3 linked regions of the Homo sapiens genome follow. The protein of the gene in region 3 interacts with the protein of the main gene of each other region in a biochemical or structural test. Each region holds a gene or a part of one and is shown on either strand. Other genes may lie near its edges. The genes, in order: USP25, SCN3A and CNTN1.

Region 1 (7,685 bases), on a different chromosome or scaffold from region 3:
TCATAAATTAGTATGAAATCCAGCAGAGGAGCTAAAGCTAAAACAGGAAAACACCATTTTTTCATTTTTAGTATGAGAGTTGTGACGATTTATGATATAAATTTTTTTTTGAGTACTCCCTCTCATAAGTTATTTTATCACAGGATTTTGATGCTTTGGTTAAGTATAAGTGCCATTCAACATCACGTTGAAGAAGACAGAGAAGACTTGAGCTACTAAGTCATGGTTTTAACCAGTGTCTTTTTCTTTGGGCTAGAAATTCTAATGTAAAGAATTATTTTCGAAGGATAGTTGTGAGATTTCTTTTTTTCCTGATCATATATTATACCCACTCTTGGAATTTTCAAGAGGTGTGGAAAACTTTTAGAAAGAGGTTGAGTTTTAACTAAACTGTGTACCCAGTTACTTGTCAGGTCCGCATTGTGGTGATACATATAACAATGTCAGTGCCCACATCCTGTGCCTAAGATTGCAGTGAAGAAAACAAAGGTGGTATTAAAGTTTTTGTTATTGTTTTATTTCCTTTCAGCATTGGTTTACTGAATTACCACCTGTGTTAACATTTGAATTGTCAAGATTTGAATTTAATCAGGCATTGGGAAGACCAGAAAAAATTCACAACAAATTAGAATTTCCCCAAGTTTTATATTTGGACAGGTATGGTTTGATATACTGCATGACTTAGTTTGAAACAGTTTAGTAAGGGAGAAAATATTGTTTAGAGGAAAATTCTGCATAATTTTCTTAGAATTAATTTCTACTTTTGCATAATATACCTAATACCATTTGTCAAGGTAGATGAAATTTACTTTGTATTAGAAAAGTATAGTTTTTGGGAATAATGTTATAAGGAAATTTAAAAAAGATGAATTTTGTAATCTTAAAATTCAGAATTTTAAAAAATACCATTTTGTATTATCTACCTTACATCTTATACAATTTTGAATGAATTGATGCTTTGTGGTGATGTCTGTACTTAATATTGTATCTATCTATCTTTCTGTCTTTCTTTCTGTCTCTCTGTCTTCCTGTCTTTCTGTCTTCCTGTTTTCCTGTCTTTCTTTCTTTTGTTTTTTTCTGTCTGTCTTTCTGTCTATCTTTCTGTCTTTCCTTCTTTTTTGTTTTGAGACAGAGTCTTGCTCTGTCGCCCAGGCTGGAGTGCAGTGGTGCGATCTTGGCTCACTGCAAACACCATCTCCTGGGTTCAAATGATTCTCCTGTCTCAGCTTCCCGAGTAGCTGGGATTACAGACACCCACCATCGTGGCTGGCTAATTTTTGTATTTTAGTAGAGACGAGATTTCACCATGTTGGCCAGGCTGGTCTTGAACTCCTGACCTCAGGTGATCCTCCCGCCTTGGCGTCCCAGAGTGGTAGGCCGGGTACGCTGGCATCTGGCCATATTGCATCTACTTTCATGATATTCGGAAATGCTAATGATTACCTTTTTCTGATAGATACATGCACAGAAACAGAGAAATAACAAGAATTAAGAGGGAAGAGATCAAGAGACTGAAAGATTACCTCACGGTATTACAACAAAGGCTAGAAAGGTATTTTAACTTTTATGAAATTAGGAGATAATTATCAGAAACCATGTATTTGGTGACTAGATTTTTAATTTCAAATTTGCTTTGAGTGATTTATAATTTTAGGAGTAGTTAATATTGTGTGAATAGTTTTGAGTTTTGCTTGAAACTAAAAATCTATAGTAGACTTTAAAAAATTATTCTAGTGTTTAAAATTAAATATCTCATTGTCAACAGGTAATGTTCCTACTGCTGAAAATAGATACAAAGTTAAATGAATATAGTTTTGACCTTCCTTTTTGCATGAAACTAAAGATTACTCTTGAGATTTTCATTAAAATGAATGGTATCTGAGTTTTTCTCCTTAAAACAGGATACAAACTCAGCTGCCTACCAAGTCTTCTCAGCAGCTTCGTAAAGGAGGAAATTGTGTCAGGTGTAAGATGGTATGTGCCGGGAGCCTAGAGAGCAATCTGTGTGTACAGGGAATGAATGCCATTCCATACCAGTGGATGGTACCATGTATGAGTATGGCCTCACTGTTGTCTATTGATTTGGATCATTTCTAAAAGACGTCAGAATCTGGACTGAGAAATGTTCTACAGGCCAGACAGAAATCTAAAGGCTGAAATGTCACAAGTCATTTCAGTTTGCAAACCCCAATCTGCTCTGCATTCCCCTATTTTAGGAATTTTCAAATTAGTAGTCTAAAACTTCTTACATCAAATAGTATATTGTATTTTAATGATTTTTATTCTTAAAAAGTATGAATAATCATATTGAAACATGATTAGTGGTAAAAGATAGGAGGATAGTACACATCACTGTCTTGATCATGAGACCAGATGCCAGATCTAAAAATAAAAACAGTCTCAGGAGATGTCAGTTTTCATCTTCCTATTGAGTTACAATTTAGAACAGCATTTACAGATTATAACAGTATATACTCACATTCAGTCCCAATCGGCCTTGGTTTCCTGTCTTTGGGGAACTTTTAATGTTTTTCTTAAGTGTATATTCAGTTTTACCATCTTCGTTTTAAAGCAAATGAATTTTATTGCTGAGGAAGTTTTATTGAAGTATCGTATCACGTTTTATAATAATAATAAAGGCCCAAATATGCTGTATATAGAAATAAAAGCATTTGTACATTTTATGATTAACAGATATTTAAGCTATGGTTCCGGTCCCAAACGATTCCCCTTGGTAGATGTTCTTCAGTATGCATTGGAATTTGCCTCAAGTAAACCTGTTTGCACTTCTCCTGTTGACGATATTGACGCTAGTTCCCCACCTAGTGGTTCCATACCATCACAGACATTACCAAGGTAAAAAGTAATCCTGATGCAAGAGACAGTTGTTACCTTTATTACACAATAATGTAACTGCTGCCTTTAAAGACAGTTTCTATAAAATGTATGCTTTGATTTACTTCAGTGAACTCCTAAGAGTAGATTCACTTAGAAGACTGTATGTCCTCTGGGAGTTTTTTTATTATTTCAGTAGATTTTATGGTTATGGATTAAAATTTTAATCACATTTTTTTTCAGTTCAGAATTATACTTTAGCATGTTTTGGTATGTACATATATAAGATTCAGCATTTTATGATCCATAAAAATAGTACTATCAAATTAGAATTTGTTTCTGTAATGTAAGCTGATAAGCCAGGGAAAATAATATCACCATGCGTAAGATTTTCTTGTTTTTTAGAAATAAATATGATTAAGCTGTTTTAACTCTAAAGCTACAACTTCATCTTATAATAATTTAGTTCTTATGTATTAAAAATCTCATTTGGATGTTAGATCAATCCACATATTTCTTTAAGATTTTTTCTTTTGAATTACAAGCCAATTTAATACTGTGGGTTTGGCACGATCTTTGTCAAGAGTTTCAGCTTGAAAGGTTAATAAGAAATACTCTATGCTTTGATACAGCACAACAGAACAACAGGGAGCCCTATCTTCAGAACTGCCAAGCACATCACCTTCATCAGTTGCTGCCATTTCATCGAGATCAGTAATACACAAACCATTTACTCAGTCCCGGATACCTCCAGATTTGCCCATGCATCCGGCACCAAGGCACATAACGGAGGAAGAACTTTCTGTGCTGGAAAGTTGTTTACATCGCTGGAGGACAGAAATAGAAAATGACACCAGAGGTAAGAAGTGTCTCATAGCATGGTTACTGTCACCTCAGATGGATATGTGTAATGTTAATATTGAGAAGGGAAATCACGTCTGGATTTTATATTTAAATATTATAGTCATTTTTCTTTTCCAGAAAGGGTTTTAAGATAAACTAGTTTGGCTCCCCATTTTTATAATCTCAATATCAGGTTCACAGGGACCAAAAGATTTTCCCTGGATTGCTTAGCTGATTAATGACATAGCAGATGGCCTGATTTTCTAGTTTGCTGCTCTAAATTTATATCAAACTGGTATTCACAGTTACTCCATTGGAGAAATGTCATACAATATCAATGTTTGTACATATCAATTAGGTACTAAATCTAAGTTTGCACAGGGAGTTCCGGTGATTAAAAAATTTTCTTTGGGCTTAAGAATTAGAAATGTGAATTTTAATTTTTAATAGCTCTAACAGATTTATGAGTATCTATGATCCCATTACTAGTCTGTAACAGAGTTTTTACTGGCATGCAGCAAAATAAGAAAAATAAGGACAGTGCTCTGGGTGGGGTGTGTGCACTTGTGTGCGTGTGCGTGTGTGTGTGTGTGTGTGTGTGTGTGTGTGTGTGTGTGTCAAGTTGCCATCTGTCCTTTCTTGGAAGGAACTCTCTTTTATTCTTTTCTATTCTATTTTTTCTTTTTTTTCAGAATAAGTTATTCTGAACTTTTCTCTTTCCTACTTTGCTGCTGTTAAAGTGTACTTAAAAAAATGGATTATGGTAGATTTTATTACATTTTTTTCCTTAAATGTGAAAATATAATTCCCTATTATCATTCCCCAATTTTATGCTGATTTATTGATTTTTGAAAAAAATGAACTATGTGACATGGTTGGAATTATATTGAACAATATTGATTGTTGGATATTATATGACCAACTTAACTCTTTATAGACAATATTTGAAAAAGAATGGCCCTAATTTAGTAAGAAGTACATAAGGTATGATGGTGACTAACAGCATTAGTAGCTGTCAAGATTTTCTTTAGTATTTTTCAAATAAGAGGGAATTTTTAAAAATATTTGAACTCATTAACAAACATTAATCAAGCAAATAGTGTTGATGAAGCACTATATTAGGCGTTGGGTAATTTTCTACTCCTCATGGCAGGTTGTTTTTAAAAGATTACATTCAGAGGAGTGGAAGCTAGGAAGCTTTTGACACCTAAGTAGTGGCATTGAGGGAGGGAAGAAGTGAATGTACTTAAAATACTCTTTGGAGACAACTGACAGATGTGGGTCATTGGCTAGAGGTAAGAGAGAGGGACGAATCGAATGATTCTCTCAGTTCATAATGGTATGAATAACCAAATAGAATGTATTTTGGAAAAAAGGTAAAGCAGTGGGCAAAGAGGTTCCCACTCAGGGGAGGAAAGAGAAATATGATGAGTTCTCTTTTGGCCATTTTAAGTTTGAAGAGCTTTTTTGAGACGGAGTCTCGCTCTGTCACCAGGCTGGAGTGCAGTGGCATGAACTCGGGCTCACTCCAGCCTCTGCCTCCCAGGTTCAAGCGATTCTCCTGCCTCAGCCTCCCAAGTAGCTGGGATTACAGTTGTGTGCCACCACACCCAACTAATTTTTGTATTTTTAGTAGAGATGGGGTTTCACCATGTTGGCCAGGGTGGTCTCAATCTCTTGACCTTGTTATCCGCCCACCTCAGCCTCCCAAAGTGCTGGGATTACAGGCGTGAGCCACCATGCCTGGCTGTTAAGATTTTTATATGTAATACTATGGATCAGGAAAGAAGGTTTTCCTCAGGATATTTTTTTTCTTTCTTTCATCCATATTGATGTTAGCAGTTAGCATTATTTTGTAAACTATTGTGTAATATTCCAACACACGGGTATGATGTAATTCATTTAATTCCCATATTGATATTTCCTAAATAGTGCTGGTCTTCGATATACATATTTATACACTTCTGTAAGTAGGATATGTTCTTTTTTATGTTCAGGGGTACATGTGCAGGTTTGCTATAAAGGTAAATTACATGTCTTGGGGGTTTGGTGTAAGATTATTTCATCATGCAGGTAATAAGCACAGTACCTGATAGGTGGTTTTTCCATCCTCACCCTGCTCCCACCCTCCACCCTAATGTAGGCCCCAATATCTGTTGTTTCCTTATGTCCACCATTTCTGGTTCAGAGTGTGTATATTTTAAATTTTGACGACTGTTTTAAAATTGTCACTCCAAAACATTAAACCAGTTTGCATTCCCACTGTGTGAGAGAGCCTGTCTCCCAGTATCCTCCCTAGCCCTGGACACTTTTTAGTAGTTTTTCACAATTGAAAAACTGGTATTTTAGTGTTTTGATTTGCATTCCCTTAGCTTCGAGTGAAGTTGGATATTTATATTGTTCTGTAAATTTCTTGTTTGTGACATTTGCCCATTTTTTAAGTATTGAGCTATTTGTATTTTTCTTATTACTTAATAGAAAGTTTAATGTATTGTGGATATTAACACTTTACCTATAATATCACATATGCTGCAGATATTATTTTCCCAGTTTTTCATTTGATTTTATGTTGGTTTTGTTTTCTTTTTATAATGTAGATTTTTTAAAGTGTTGGGCAGGGAGGATCTTATCTTTTCCTATAAGGTTACTAGTTTTCTGACAGGCTTAAGACAGGTCTTTCCCCACTCTAAAGTTAGCCAGTTTCTTTTATAGTTTTTCAAGGTTTCTTCCTGATTGGTTCAGCAGCTTCACAATATGATGTGGTTACAATCTAACCGTTTCCTTATTGACAGATATTTAGGTTATCTCTTTTTTAAAAATTATTGTGGACAATATGACTGTGAACATCCCTATCTGAACAATTTTGTAGGATTATTTTCTACTAGAAGTAGAAATAATTGTCATGGGAGTGCCATAATTTTATTTTCACTGGTGATTATAGTCGATTTTTATTCAGTTATGTGTGTGTACAAGATATGTGGTGAACATGTTTTACTTTGTTCTTAAGTTTACTTGTGTTATAGCAATATGTAAGGAAGCTTAGCTTTCATTTTCATTGAAACTCTCCTTTATAGATTTGAACAAAATTCACTTTTATTGGCTCTGCACATTTTCTAGATAAATCATATTTGTGTTGTTTTTAAAGTATGCATTTGTACTGTGTCTTTTATTAAGAATAACTATAATTCATTTTCTACAGATTTCAAATGGTAATGTTTTTTAAGAAAAGTTTTAGGAAAATTTTCCTATTCCTCTAACATGTTTGTAGGAAAAACATTAGTCCTTATCTTATAAGTAGAAACACATTTGCTGTTAATCATTAAATGACACCTTATATCCTTAGATTTGCAGGAAAGCATATCCAGAATCCATCGAACAATTGAATTAATGTACTCTGACAAATCTATGATACAAGTAAGTGAAATTTTGAGCTAGTAATCATTGTCAAAATTATTTACATATATTTTAATTTACCTTTACATTATCTTAATCTAATTTTTCTTTACATGTTTTGTTTTAAAATTTTGGCAAATCTTATTGTAAAATAATAAGGGCTTGCAATATGTACAATGTGACAGTTCATCTGAATGGGGAAACTTTTATAACAAATTTATAACAAAATTCATGACAAGTTTTCCCCATTCAGTTGTATTTTCACACCGTATGTGTTGTGTACCCTTACTATTTTACAGTAAAATCTACCAAAGTTTTTCAAAAGGCTATAGCATCTTTAAAAAGTCTTATGGGAGAAAATCTATGGTTGTTAAAGGATATTAAGATTTGGGAAGAAACTTAAGGACTCCATTACATTTTAACTTCTGGTGTATATCATATAATCTATTTTGTTAACCGTCAATTTAGAATTCTGAAGATGTAGACACATTTGCTATATGTAAAACTGCCCACTATAAGCTTTTTATTCAAATAAACAATTAGGCCAATGAGTATGTACACAATAAATACATTTTTAGTTTTTCAAAAATCATCTTTTTAATCTATCAACTTTG
Region 2 (7,963 bases), on a different chromosome or scaffold from region 3:
CTGGGAGTGACCTAGAACTGAGAGACAGATGAGCAACAAATTCCAAGCACCGCATTTGTCTAGTTGAGAAACACTACCCTCATATTTTTAAGCCTCCCAAGCTCTTAGCCCTCTCAGATCTGCCTAATCAAGAGTCCATTAAGTCATCTTGGCTGCCATGAAGATGAAGCTGACAGCGCAGTTACTTGAGTCAGTTTAAAGAGGCCTAGGGTGGTTGAAGGGAAGGATTAGGAGGCCTGGGGTGCTGAAAGGTCATCCAAGTTCTAGCTCCCAAAGACCCCAGTAGCACACAGCTGTCAGGAGCACGAAGCTACACTTAGAAACAACCTTTGGAGGAAAGCAGGGATTTTGCAGTCCATCAACCATTCATCAAGCACAATTTGCCTTTCCACATCTTATTGTACCGTTAATAGAATTGAAGCATTAGAGAGTTTGTGAGTTGATCACATAGCAAAGACTTTCCTGAGATTTAGGTTCAGTTATCTGGTGGTCTTAGTAGAAATTACTTGGCGTTTAAATGTGGTTTTGGTGAAACCTAGATTCCCTTTGTGAATCTTTACAGAAACTTCGTCTAACAGGTATATCCTCTTAAGGCAACGTGAAATAAGGCCCTTTGCCTCTATTTTCATAAGAAGAAGAAAGTTTTGAAGTCCGTGATAACATATTGGGCATAAATAACTGTCTTCTGGAAGGCATTATGAGTTCTATAAACTCTCCAGGAATTGCCTGGAATGTTAACACTAAGTGATACTATTATAGGTACACAATTGTTGTTGTTTCAGCAAGGGCATCCTTCCAGGATGAGAATTATTCACTTTTCAGGTACATAATTATTTGGCAGTTTTATTCTATCCTTCCTGTTGTGGTGGAAGATATTATATCACCAGCACTAACGATAACAATAATAACAATGATGAAAATTTATGCCTTTATGTTTGTCCTGTTCCTTTTGATGTGAGTTAGGATGGCAGGGAGAGAGAGGAAGGAGGTTCGTAATCATGTTCCAGGATCTATACCAAGCACTGAACAGACATTATTTTAGTTACACAATCCTGTAACACAGGCATTATTATTCCTATTTTAAAGATGATGTAATAAAGGCTCAGAGAGTTTAAATAACTTGTCAGGTAATAGTGGCCATAAAATGTAACCTGCCAAGCTCTTGCTCTTAACCACTTCTCCATGTTGTTTCCTGCTTGTTTCCACTACAGAAGGAACTGGCCAAGAAACGCCCCTATTTCTCTATTTTACCACTTTCATGTTTAGCACATCAATCATAATTTACAACTCAGTGAGAGTCAAAGTTGTATCTTAATTAAGCTGAGAAACCAACTGAAGAAAAATCCAAATAAATGAGGATCAGAAAATTTTAAAAACAAAGTATTCTTATACAGCTTTGATTCTAATTTCCTTCCTTTGTAGGCAAGGAAAATGCTCTTCAGTGATACTTGGGGTCTTTTCTGAGACAACAAAACTCACTAGTAGCAGAACATGAACCAGATCCCAAGACTTTCAGCTCAGGGTTCAACCTTTTTATCTTCAGTACTCAAATAAATCACAGCATTTTTCTCAACTTTACAAATGAAATCACCACTACATTCTTTTAAAGAGTAAGTTATTCAAATGTGTTTGATATATCATTTAATCAAAGCAGGTTTAATTTCCGAAATTTTTGAAAGAGCGCATTTTGTGAAGTGAAGAACTCTGAGTGTATTTGCTTTTTCACATGGCGACCACATGTATAGATGAATAACTAAGAGACTGTTGCAACTATACCAAGAAAAATAAAAGCTAACATTTGGGGCCAAAATTAAGCATTCATTCATAAATGTAAACCAGTTCAATCAAGACCAGCTCTGATGCTTACTCAGAACAAAGTTACTCACATTTAGTCACCTGTAGAGAAGCATGGTGTGTACAATACACTCAAGTTAATTAACAGCCATTTCTGGGAACCCTGTCCAAAGAAATAGTTTTCTTTATCTCCTATGGTAGGAATTCTTCTGAAATAGACAAGACCCAGGGCTCTCCTCTCAGGCAACCACTATTTTGAAATGTTTTTGGGGGGACTATTATTGCTACTCAATGTAAAATATTAAGTGAGATGTCAATATTTTTCAACATATCATTAGGAATTACAGTTTGGAGGCCTTAAGTTCTATTTTTGAAGCCCTTTTAGCCAGTACTGACTGGAAGCCCTGTTGAAATCAGAAGTCTTCATTTCATATAGGGCACACTCTATTTGGAGTGAATGTGATGAAATGTTTCCATGCAAATTCCTACAAGCACTTATGCCTTTATCTTTGTCCTCATAAGCCACATTATACTACCTGTTGTGTATTTTAAAACCCTGTATGATTTTTAAAACTTATCTTTCAATTAATATGTATAGATTTTCTGTCAATAATTTCTTATTCTAATTATGTGGTGGCTAACTGAATGAAACATTTATGGTTATGATATAGAATATTCTAAATACAACTACAGACAATATGGATCATAGATAAAGTAAATTATTGTTTTATGGCTCCAGTGGTTCTTCCTGGTAATTAATAAAAATAAACAGTTATTAAATATATACAGAAAAACAGCAATCTATCAAGCTTATAGAACAATTAAGAATATATAATAATCTTTAAATCAATAAATTAAAAGGTAAACATTTAATATAAAATGAATATATTAAAGGATAAAGAAGTAGCATATTATGGAACATATAGAGATTATTTTATTTTTTGAAGGTTCAACCTCTTTTAAATGGTTAGTATTGGTGTTCTTTTCTCTATGAAAACAGATTTTAGAGAAAAATGATAGTGTATTTCACAAAGCCAAACACCTCTATATTGTTATCACTCCCTATATGCATGGCCTCTCTAAAGCTGTTAAATAAAAAACTAAAGCACAAGAATGATAGTTCCAATTTCACTATACATTTATGTTTAAAAAATACTGGACACACTGGGCATTTAAATAGATGACATACAGCCAGGAAACTCATTAGACTAGCTTTAAGTATAATAAAAAATATTTTTTCTGAATACAATTAATCATAAGCATCTACAAAAACACAAGACCATTGATGCCTAGTATGTACCATAAATCACCATTTCCAGACAGGCTCTATTTTCTTTGAAAGATAAAGAAATAGTAAGCAGTTTACACATCAAACGATGCCTTTGGTTCCTGTAATTTACATTTAAACAACACTGGGTTAAAAATAGCAGCATGAAGATGATTTTAAAGTAAGGAAAATGACCTGGTAGCTAGGTTCTATGGTGCAGATAATGAAATGTTTTGTCAGCTTACCTGATAAAACAGAGCCTTATGAATTACAGCATAACAAAGCCCAGCATCCAAGATGGTTAGGGTATAACGTGTCTTCCTCTGCAGCTGTTCAGCTTTTTTTTTTTTTTTTTTTTTTGACCACAGAGGTTTACAAATTAGTTACAATTTTTTTTCTTTCTTTCTCTGTGGATAAGAAAACAAAGAGACCTTTCCAGAATCCTCTCTGCTTATGCCTCCGCTTCCTGTTCTGAGATTCACTCTATGGTACCCAACATATATCAGAAAACAGCTTTGAGGAAAAAAAAAAAGAAAGAAAAAAAGGCCGATCGCACTCAAAGTGGTACCGCCATCTACTGGCGGACACACACAAAATTGAGCCAAAGAAAAAACATTCCCATTATCCTCTGTCACAGGGAGGAAAGTAAACCTGCATGAAGCATGGGTAGTCATGAAAGTGCCCCAAGATGACAGTAGAGAGGTGATGTGAGCTAAAATTTCCCAACACACTAAAAAAATGTAACTTATCTACTACATATAAATATGTATGAGACCTTTTACATATTCAGTTATTTGCATCTCACTAATTTTTTTAAAAAATTTTATCACTTTGTTGTTTTGCATGATTGTTTCACACATAAACTACTAAAATTAAAAGATATATAAATTACTGTTTGAAAAATAGGTTTTAAGTTTACATTACCCTTTACGTGTAGAGTTTTGCGAAAGCTCCCTTGTGGCCTGCTCTAGTCTTTTGAAAACCTTTTCTCTTCCTGGGATGAATTATTTTCAAGGTGAGGAATTTGACTCCTTAGAGAACAGTGTAAACACATACTCACTGATAGTATTTTTGTGTTGCTTTCTGGTAAAACATTTGCAAGAAATATCTAAATGTAGAAAAAGATTCTATACATCAGTGAACCTAGCTAATATTATTTATTAGGATATTGAAGCACACAATACATAAAGAAAATAAAAATAATCCATCAGTTATTAAGATATTTCTCAATCCAGATGTATGTTATTGTTTCATCTGACCTTTCATATCTACTTTAGAGCAAACAACTATGATTTTATTACAGTTTATCATCAATTAAATAAATACATTCATATTGACAAACCAACTGTATGGATGGACAAAAATGATGTCAAGTATTATATTAGACTTGAAAAGACACAGAGAGAAACACACAGTGCCTGCCATAAAGGAGCTCATACAAAGAAGAAAAACAAATATAGCTGATACCATATTTCCCAGCCATGTGTTCAAGAACTGTTAATTACATACTTCGTTTTCAATTGTGGCCCCCATTTTGTCTAATGGCAGAAAAATAAATCTAGTCAGTTCCAGGTAAACTAAATTACTTGAGGCTTTTCCCAATGATTTTGGGTTTGCATTCAACCAATACATGATTTTCCTCTTCTATCTCTCCTTCTCATGGAGACTGATCTAAGTTCAGGATTGTGTACATATATAGAGAAAGCAGAGTATGATCCCGTTCCCCCTTTCTCCACATGGGCATCCACTGAGGCCAGGAGTCCTGCATGATCCATGACCATCATTATCCCTCATATCTACTAACGTACCCACAGGCCCACTGGGCCCCGGGAATAGCATCCCTCCAGCTTTGCATGGCAGCATCCCCTCTTTGTCACTTCTTCCTCTAAGGAAACTTTTGTTCCTGTCCTTTAGGAGGAGAGAAGAAAAAGCAGCATGTTCCCAGGGTCACTCTTGGCTGTAATTGGCTGACTTAAGCCTTCCTCCCTGCCCCAGGCGCCTCACACAGCCATCTCTGTTCTGCTGTTTGTAAACCATGGGATGTAATGCACTCTGCAGGCTTCAGGCAAGCGAGGCACAATCTCTGCCACACTAGAATAGTGTAAATAGATGGAAACTTCTCATCTTTTCATCTTTTTAGCTAATCCTAGATTGGCAAACTATGTAAGGAGCCCTTATCAGAGACTCCTTTCCTTCTTCATAACTTCCTTCACAGACTCAAAAGAGTTTTTGCTTGGGTCTCTTCTTTCTGTACCAAAGGTAAGCTGGAGCCACTTGTTTTCCCTTGAAATCTTTTTGTCTTATGTCTAATGTATCAGTTTACTAGGGCTGCTGTAACAAACTGCCATCCTGAGGGGCTTAGACACAGAAATCATTTTTTTCACAATTCTGGCTACTCAGAGGCCAGAATCAAGTTGTCAGCATGATCATGCTTCCTCTGAAACCTGCAGGGGAAGGATACTTTCTTGCTTCTCTTAGCTTTTAGTAGCCCCAGATGTTCCTTGGTTTGTGGCAGCATAACTCCAGTCTCTGTCTCTGTCTTTACATGGTGCACTCCCTGCATCACTGTCTTTACGTACTCCTCCCTCTGTGCATGCCTCTGTGTCAAATTTTCTCCTCTTTATAAGGACACCAGTCACTTTGGTTTAGGGTCCGCCCTCATAACCTAATTTTAACCTGATTATCTCTGTAAATACCCTATTTCAAAATAAGGGCATATTCTGAATTACTCAGAATTAGAACTTTTTGAGAGGAGGCACAATTCAACCCCTAACACAAGAATTTAAATATAAAGCACAAGAATTTGACAATTCTTCTGTCCATCTCCAACGACAATTCCACTTAGGCAATAATAGCCTTGGCTATCTGGCCAGAATTGGGGAGGGTAGGGGAAGAGCCTCAGGTAATGATGAAGACATTTAATAATATTAGTAACAATAACAAAACTAACATTTATTGGTACTATGTGCCAGACATTGTTCTAAGCACTTTACATATGTTCATTTAAACTTCACCCATATGAGGTATTATTATACACACTTTACAGGTGAAGAAGCAATGAAATGTGAGGGAAGTAAAACGTAGTTAGTACCTGATATGGTTTGGCTGTGTCCCCACCCAGATATCATCTTGAATTGTCAGATATCATCTTGAATTGTAGCTCCCATAATCCCTACATGTCATGGGGGGCACCTGGTGGGAGGTAATTGAATAATGGGGGCGAGTTTTGCCCATGCTGTTCTAGTGATAATGAATAAGTCTCATGAGAGCTGATGGTTTTATAAAGAGGAACGTGTCCCCTGCACACGTTCTCTTGCCTGCCACCATGTAAGATGTGCCTTTGCTCTTCCTTCACATTCCACCATGATTGTGAGGCCTCCCCAGCCATGTGGAACAGTGAGTCCATTAAACCTCTTTTTCTTTATACATTACCCAGTCTCAGGTGTTTCTTTATGGCAGTGTGAAAATGGACTAATACAGCACCTCACATCTCATCCCAACACAAGCAGTTGTAATCGGGTAAGATCACTCATAATACAAGCATTTGTCAGATGCTGAAAGAACACAAAGGAAATCAGCTTCCACTAATTTAGATCATTGATACTCACACGTTTAGTGTAAATTTATAACATTTCATTGTTTCATTGTGTACACTTTCTGTCATGAAAGATTCCTATTTTCTAGGCACTTTTAACTTTTTCTTCTCTACTCATGAACAAACTAGCCCTGCTCACTGTCTCTCAACTAAATGTTCATTAAGTGCCAGTCCCTACTGCTCCACACTCATTTTACCATTACTAGTAATATTTAATAGAATATTAATTCTATCACTCAGTTTTGGGTATCCAGATGCTCCAAAGAGTTTTCTGATGACGTCTTCTGAGGAACTGATTTTTCTTAGGTTATACTGGGCCACATTTTAATGAGAACTGGTTTGAACAAAATAAGAAAAGTAAATGATAATTATTGTGGCGATATTCCTCATAGAAAAAAAGAAAAATAAATAAATGCCAGCAAAGAGAGCTTTACTCTTTGTTGCTGAAGAAACTAATTTATCTTGTCATTAAAAGTAGAAAATTATATAAAGGAAGAGTGACCAGAGGTGTGGTATCATTTGCTATGATTCTAACTTCATTGTGACTTTCGTACTTTTTTTCTGTAGACAGAACGACAGGTAGTTTGCAAATCTTCAGTGAGTGGATTCTGAGAGGGTTAAGGTGAAATAGTCATTGATTACCAACATAAGGTCTCTGGAGCCTTAGTGGTGTCTGACCATATGTTGTAAACATATCATGCATAAATCACAGAAATTCACACTAGAAGAGAGCTAATAGCCTCCAGCTGGGACTCATAGGTTGCTCTGTGCATGTCTACTGTTTCTGATTACTCAAGGTCTTCAGAGCCTTTGTGGGTAGGAGCTATAATGCTGGTTTCTATTTGATTTTATAAGCTTCATAGCCAAAGAATACTTTTTGTAACATCCATAGATCTACCAAAAGATTCCCAGACTCTGGCCCAATTTTCTTGTTTCCTAGACCATTATTTCCCAGACAGTGATTGGAGGAATACTACTGTTCTGCTGGACTAATGAAGTGCCACTCCACATCCACCAGAATGGCTACAACTTAAAAAGGCTTATCATACTGTTTGTGAGAATCTAGAGCTACAGAAGCTGTCAGAGACTTCAGGTAGGAATGTAAACTAGTATAACCACTTAGAAAAATGGTTTGGCATTACCAACTGAACGTGAGTCTACTCTGTGAGCCAGCAAGTGCCACTCTTAGGCATATACCTGACAGAAATGTGTGTGTGTACAAGAATGCCTGTGGAAGCATTATTGAAAACAGGTCAAACAAGAAAGAACAGAAATATCTTGAACAGGAGAATGGATATAAGAATTGT
Region 3 (7,685 bases):
AAATTGTGTTTTATGCAAAGGGTTACTATGCAAGTGCTGAAAAGAATGTGTTGGCACTATACTATGTGGAAAGAAAAAGTTGTCCAAGATAAAAGGAAGTGGCAGAACACCGTATATAGCATAATTCAATTCTGGGCCAGGCACAGTGTCTCATGCCTGCAATTCCAGCACTTTGGGAGGCTGAAGTGGGTGAATCACCTGAGGTCAGGAGTTCACGACCAGCCTGGCCAACATGGCCTCTATTAAAAATACAAAAAATTAGCGGAGCATGGTGGCAGGCTCCTGTAATCTCAGCTACTTGGGAGGCTGAGGCAGGATAATCACTTGAACCTGGGAGGCAGAGGTTGCGGGGAGCCGAGATCGCACCATTGCACTCCAGCCTGGGCAACAAGAGCGAAACGCTGTCTCAAAGAGAAAAAAGAAAAAGAATGTCTAATAAATTTGAAAACATGCATAGGAGAACTATCAGTAATAACACAAAACTGGAAACAACCCAAGTATTCAACAATAGAATAAATATGTATATTTTGGGGGCATTCATTCAATAGAATTCTACAGTACAATGAAAATAAATTATTGCTACATGCAAGAATATTGACACAGCTCACAAAAAATTTTGAACAAAAGGAATCTGGGCCAGGCATGATGGCTCATGCCTGTAATCCCAGTACTCTGGGAGGCTGAGCAGGGAGGATCGTTTGAGACCAGGAGTCCGAGAACAGGCTGGGCAACAGAGCAAGACCCTGTCTCTAGGGAAAAAAAAAAAAAATCCGATACAAAAATGCATACTTCATGATTCCGTTTATGTAGATTCTAAAAACAGACAAAACTATTCTACAGTCTTATTAGTCAGAAGCTATCTTTGGAGAACAGTAAGGCGATAGTGATTAAGTGGGGCTGGAAGCGGGGTACCTGGGTGCTGACAAGATTCTTTCTTCTGAAATGAGTGTTGATTTCATAGTATGAATACTTTGTTATAGCTCATTGGGCCAAATGTTTTCTGTATGTCTGCCATTCTTTAATGAAAAAGGGAAAAGGAAAGAATGTAATAATACAGTGTTTTACTTAAAGTTGATGTCTTAGGTTCATTACCACTCAACTTGTGCAGAAACCAAAATTAGAAAATAACATTTTTTGAGAAACCAGGTTAATTTTCAAGCAATCTGAAAGTTGTTATGCTCTCCAAAATAATATAAGTAGACCAAAAGAAAAATAAAGTCAATCCATTAGGCATTTACAAATATTTTAAATTATATTACACCACATTTAATGTATAAAAATACTCTACAAAGGAAAGTTTTATCTGAGATAAAATTCTATTACAGTAAACAGCTTTTCAAGCTAGAATATTATAAATATTATTTATAATATTCATCTTGTCTGTTACAGTTAACAAATCTGTACTTTTAGTAACCATGACAATTAAATACTATCAGATTAGAAGCCTTAGGAGAGAATTACTGTTTATGGTTTGAGATGTTAGAAAGCAAAATTAGGGCAGAAATGCATAAAAACTTCTGGTGCTTGTGTCAAAATTCAAATGATTGGCCTATTAGAGGCATATTTAAATGACACATTGTAATGGTCCAATTCATGCTTGGGAAACTGCACCATGTAAATTACTGTAGTGAAAGATATCAATAAGATATTCATAAATAAAACATATGCAAATTTAGAATGATTTAATTCCTTGTATTAATACTAAATTTATTTGAGGGTCTAGGGATAGATTCCGGTCACTTAGAATAGCAGCATTTTAAACCGTGACTCACAAAGTACTAAAACCAGCTATCATGAGCACTGGGGGTTGGTGCTGAATAACACAGCAATTAAAAACTTGGACTTCAGAGTCAGACAATCTGGGTGTGAATTCTAGCCTCTCCATGCATTAACTTTTTAATAACTAACTTCCCTGATCTGCAAAATCGGAATAATAAACTTTAAAAATCCTTTTCACTGGTTTTGTAAAGTTTTGAGATGGTCATGTGCAACACATTTTTTTTTAAATGCCCAACACAGAGTGAGTGCTCAATAAGTGATTGTTAGTAATTGAGGTGCAATTATAGAGAAGATGTTTGCACAAGTCAATTTTTAAAAATCAATCTTATATCTCGGTGTTTGTAATTTTCAAACTAGGATAGATTGCCATTCTTACTAAGTACCCATCTGTTTTTCATAAATTTCTTTTTCATCACTTGTGCTATTTCCTAAAAAATGCATTTGACCTATCTGGTTCTCCAAGATTACACAGAATATATGCTAAGCCAAAACCTGAAGACTAAAGTTGAACATTGTCTACTAAACAAAGAAAATCCAGTTTATTTTTTATTTTTTTTTTTATTTTGAGACAGAGTCTCACCCTGTCACCCAGGCTGGAGTGCAATGGCATGATCTCAGCTCCCTGCAACCTCTGCCTCCCGGGTTCAAATGATTCTCCTCCCTCAGCCTCCTGAGTAGCTGGGATTATAGGCATGTGCCACCATGCCCAGCTAATTTTTGTATTTTTAATAGAGATGGGGTTTCACCATGTTGGCCAGGCTGGTCTCAAACTCCTGACCTCATGATCTGCCCGCCTCGTCCTCCCAAAGTGCTGGGATTACAGGCGTGAGCCACCATGCCTGGCTGAAAAAAATATTTTAATAATTCAAGTTTTAAAAAAAAAGTAAGGGAAAGAGCATTGTACTTGTCACCTAATATAAAAGGCAAATACTTCAAAACAAACAAAAGAAAGGGTAATATGGTGTGTGTGTGTATGTGTGTGTGTTCTAAATGATCAAGTAACTAAATATAAGACTTTAAAATATGTTTAAAGCAAAAAGTTCTGTCAGCTGGTTTCTTCTCAGATTACTAAAAATCTAAGTAAAAACCCTATATAGGTAATAATGCAATACATTTTTACTAGATTGCTCAGGACTTTCAGGGGATTATTATTATCAAGATTGTTGTCCTTAACCTAGACAAAATCATGGCAGTCATCTCTCAGTGAAATGTTCTGGGCCAACCATAACACATGGGACACTCAACTATGAGCAAGATCATCTTACTTGTCCAGATTTGCCACTAACGTGTAACCTTGGGCAAATTAGTTACTTCTCTGAGCTTTTTTTTTTTATCTGTAAATGTGGATAACCATGCCTTTGAATCTAACTTTCAAAACTGTTACGAAGGATCAAATAAGGCTATGCATGTGACCATGCTTTGTAATCTACCAAAGATGACACCAATGGAAGACCTTTTATTAAATAAAGAAAAGTGAAATTAACTTTGCCATTATTTAATTCCAACACAGCTAAATTTATACATCGACATTATCCATGTAACTATGCATTCCTCTTTCCTTTTAAAATGCAGAATTATTTAAAAGATATTTATTGACTGATTTAGCAATTTGGAATTATTGGCTGTCCTAGGCATGCTTTTCATTACAAAATTCCTCATTAAAAAAAAACTCTCTTTTATTTACTCTGTATAAATCAACAAAACCAGGAAGTTAATTTTTGAAATATTGTGAAGATTGACATAATTTTTAGCTTTTATTGATTGGTTTCCAGGGTAAAGATATGAATCCTTCATTTGTTGAAATCCTAAAAACTAATTTAGTCTTAACCTTCTTTTATTCATTTCTTCAGAAAATATTTATTAAGTATCAACTCTATGTCAGGTCCTCTATCAGACACAAAGAAAAATAACATATGGTGTCTATCCTCAAGGACTTACGGTGGAGGCAAGAGACAAGTAACCAATCAGTACAATATAGTATGGTAAGTGACACGGCAGGGATATCCACAGGGAGTCAAAATTTAAGACTGGGAATTCAGGGGAAGTCCTCCAAGAAATGGTGGCACCTGACCCAAGGCATGAAAAGGTTAGGTCAGTTAAAAAGCAGACAAGAAAACAGGTTATTTATAGTAGAGAATAGAACATGGGGAACATGGGAGGGTGTTGCGAGAAAAGAGGAAACAAGATGCATTAGGAGAAGGCAAACCGTTCAGTTGATTGACATTACGGGAGATTGGAGATGGAAGAAATTTGATTAATCAGAAAATGAATCTAGAGAAGTTACCACGTACCATTTAATAAAGGACTTTAGGTGCAATGCAAAAGACTTCAGACATCTTACTAATACAAAAAAAGGGGAACTAACTCAAAAAATTTTCAGCAGAGGAAGAATACGATGAAATTGGTTTTAGAAAGACAACTGTGGTTATGACATATAGAATGTACTTAGAAGAAGGCGACTATGAGGGAGGAGAATGAAATAGGGACTTCAAACTCTGAATATGTTTCTTACACAGAAAACAATGTTGTAAAAAAATTTAAGTGGCTGGTCTCATGGCCGGTCATGGTGGCTCACGCCTGTAATCTCAGCACTTTGGGAGGCCGAGGCGGGCGGATCACAAGGTCAGGAGATCAAGACCATCCTCGCTAACACGGTGAAACCCCATCTCTACTAAAAATACAAAAAAATTAACTGGGCGTAGTGATGGGCACCTGTAGTCCCAGCTACTCGGGAGGCTGAGGCAGGAAAATAATGTGAACCCAGGAGGCGGAGCTTGCAGTGAGCTGAGATCACGCCACTGCACTCCAGCCTGGGCGACAGAGCGAGACTCCGTAAAAAAAAAAAAAAAAAAAAAAAAAAAATTAAGTGGCTGGCCTCAAAGCACGCTGCTAGTAACTGACTGAGCTAGGTTTCATGCAAAGCTCTGCATAACTCTTAACACCTATGCTCTGGAGAACCGGGCAAACCTGCCTCTCATAAAAGAAACTAAAGCAACCAGCCCTAAGCAAATTGAGTAGTAACAAGACAGTGCAGGAAAAGTGGTGACATGCTCAGGTCTACACCATCAAAATCAAGTACAGGAGTGAAAAATTATCTACTGAGTTAAGGACCATCTGGATAATCCTGGCAGAAGCAGATTTAGTGCCTGAGTCATTCAGATAATTGTGCAAACAATGTGCCCTGCTCTGGCTGAGTAACCTGGCCATTAATATCTTCCATAGTGCATTCTGCCCTGTGGCTCTTTTAAAATGGACAATAGTAGCTCAGAAAGAATTAAGGTACTATTCACTTCATGGGAGAGCTGCCTAAAGAATAATAGGATCTTAATAGACTGAGTGGATTTTATGTGTCCCCAGAGCCATTTCGCACTGGGATATACATATGATATACATAAGCCAGATTCTGCTTCAAAGGAGGAAAGAAGTTCAGCAATAGCACCGTCACATGTTGTTTTTATATTCAATTCTCCGTTAAGTGGTAGAAAGTTTTCTGAACCTGAAAGCTACAAAGAGACACTACTGCAAATAGATTTATAAACTACAGTAAAGCTATACATTTCTGTGTGTTAGAAAGCATTTTTTAAAATGCAAAGAACAAGATGCAGACAATTTTTGCAGTATACCTCAGATTTCCTATTACATGAAGAAAATATGAACACTCCAATAAAGAGTCAAATGAAATTCACAAATTAAAAAATACAAAGAACCTATAAATATAACATTTTTGAACTCATCCAAAATCATAGGAACAATAACTCAGAAGAATAACTAGATACACAATTTGTACTATCAAAATGATCCCAATTTTTAAAAATAATATCAAGTGTTAATGAGAGTATGGCCAAACTGGTACAACCACTGGTAGAGAATAAATCTGTGCTTACATTTTGGGGGAAGCAATTTGGCAGTAAGTGTTATGAGGCTAAAAATATTTACACTTTTGCCTGGGTAACTTCTAAGGTGTCATAAGGAAATGGTCAGAAATGCAAATATTAATGTATACAAAGGTTCATGTTCTTGACGATGCAAAACTGAAAACAATCTGAAGATCTATCATAGAATATTGACAGCCAAAAAACACATGGATAGTAAGAATATTAAATGAAATGAATAAATGTTTATGGTATATTAAGTTTAAAAAGCTAAATACAAAAGTGAATGTTCACTGTAAACTCAAATCTATAATTGAAAAATACCTATTTATATTAATAGAAATAAGACTAGAAGATTGAAATAGGATCTCTTTGTACTGCGGAATTTGGTGGATTTTTCTTTATTCCCAGTATTTCTTTAATGATTTTAGATGTCCTTATAATAATAAGATATTATTTTCAATTGAATATTAAATAGATAGACTTTTGAGTGTAACTTTACACAGTTGGTCATTCATATTATTGAAGTGAAATAATGCCCCATCCTCCTGCTGCTACATTTCCAAGGTCACACAACGGATCAGTCCTGTTGTCAGGAGTTGAACCTGAGTCTCCTGCTCCAAAATCAGTGCTTTTTAAGATACGAACTAAAGTACAGTGAAAGTTTCAAAGGAAAGTAGAAGCACTAATGAAAATTGAAAACACATTATACCAATAATACATGGCATCTTAGATTAAAGCAGATAGACTTATAAATTGGAAGTTTTGATAACTTGCCTACTGGACTCATCCAGGCATGGAGTGCCAGAAGAAACTAGTGCTGGAATAAGCAGAGAAAGATACAAATTAGAGTTGAAAATAAAAATGAATCAATTACTGACTATATGGTGAACACTTGGACTAGAGGAAAGAAAGTCTTAAAAAGTAACTAACCACAAGCCAGAAAGCCTGTAAAGTTGTAGTCTCCATTGATAAAAGCCAGTTTAGGAATGATGCCTATTGATGGGGAAAAAGCAAAACCAGTTTTCACCTTGTGCATTACAATTGCTACAATAGCACTTCTATTATTAATAGCTATTCTTTATGAGTAATTACCATGGGCCAAACCTTATTTTGAATGTTTAACACGCATTATCTCACTTAATATTTTACAAATCACAAAATCCTCTCACGTAAGTGCTATGATAATCCCCAGTTGACTTGCTGATGTTCGCTTAACTGCATCATGATACATAAATATTAACACCTGCAGGCTTCCTCCCAAAGCCTGTGCTCTTAGCCGATAGGGTAAGTGTAAAGGAAATGGCTAATGGGAGGGAGATTAGGAATGGAAATGCAGAAGGAGAACTTTATTTTCAATAAGATAAATTGTCATCAATTTGGGGGATTTGCTTGAAAGCTAGAAGTAGAAAGAGAAGATAAGAGGGAGACAAAGAAAGGAAAGTTAGAAAAATTAAGAAAAAAGTACGCTATCAGAGCATTGTGGTGTCAAGGAGCAAAATTTCAAGAAGATGGACAATATGGAAAATAGAAGGTCAGAAGAGAACAATCGATAATACATCAATAAAAAGAAAACAAACATTGGAATTGAGGAGGAGCTTACTGGTGAGTTAGAATAAGTTGTGGGATATGATAGAGACCATGGCCAATTTACATGTAGAAATAGATGGAAATTGGAGAATTTGTTGATTTTTTTTGAAATAAGGCAATTACAGGACATATTTTGTATACAGAAATATAAATTGTCTATTTCAGCTCTTCCTAGTTGGTCTCAAGGGACACAAGATACAAGAGAATACATAGAACCAGTACATAGTCATAATCCCTACTGTAGAACCGAGTCATTCTATGAAAAGATATAGAAACACCTTATGTCATCCATTACTCCTCATGGAGAGGATCATAAAGCCAGAGGAAGTTTCCTCCCAAGGCATAGCCTTCTACCAAAAAAATATCCCCAAATCATTGCTGCACCCATCCAGCTTCTTAGGATGATGCTTCCTGAACAAGAATCTTTAAGGCTACTTATTATAG

What was found.
Region 1: the proteins of CNTN1 (region 3) and USP25 form a complex in vitro, tested with the Homo sapiens proteins (one study listed by BioGRID).
Region 2: the proteins of CNTN1 (region 3) and SCN3A form a complex in vitro, tested with the Homo sapiens proteins (one study listed by BioGRID).

Annotation. Positions count from the first base shown.
Region 1 is NC_000021.9:15,823,510-15,831,194, forward strand, and holds part of USP25 (ubiquitin carboxyl-terminal hydrolase 25), read left to right. Parts: intron 1-529; coding exon 530-657; intron 658-1,456; coding exon 1,457-1,552; intron 1,553-2,694; coding exon 2,695-2,856; intron 2,857-3,467; coding exon 3,468-3,694; intron 3,695-4,831; coding exon of another isoform or gene 4,832-4,842; exon of another isoform or gene 4,843-5,176; intron 5,177-7,021; coding exon 7,022-7,092; intron 7,093-7,685. UniProt on the Homo sapiens protein: Deubiquitinating enzyme that hydrolyzes ubiquitin moieties conjugated to substrates and thus, functions in various biological processes including inflammation and immune response.
Region 2 is NC_000002.12:165,200,517-165,208,479, forward strand, and holds the start of SCN3A (sodium channel protein type 3 subunit alpha), read right to left. Parts: upstream 3,535-7,963; 5' UTR 3,307-3,534; intron 1-3,306. UniProt on the Homo sapiens protein: Pore-forming subunit of Nav1.3, a voltage-gated sodium (Nav) channel that directly mediates the depolarizing phase of action potentials in excitable membranes.
Region 3 is NC_000012.12:40,695,185-40,702,869, reverse strand, and holds part of CNTN1 (contactin-1 isoform 1 precursor), read right to left. Parts: intron 1-7,685. UniProt on the Homo sapiens protein: Contactins mediate cell surface interactions during nervous system development.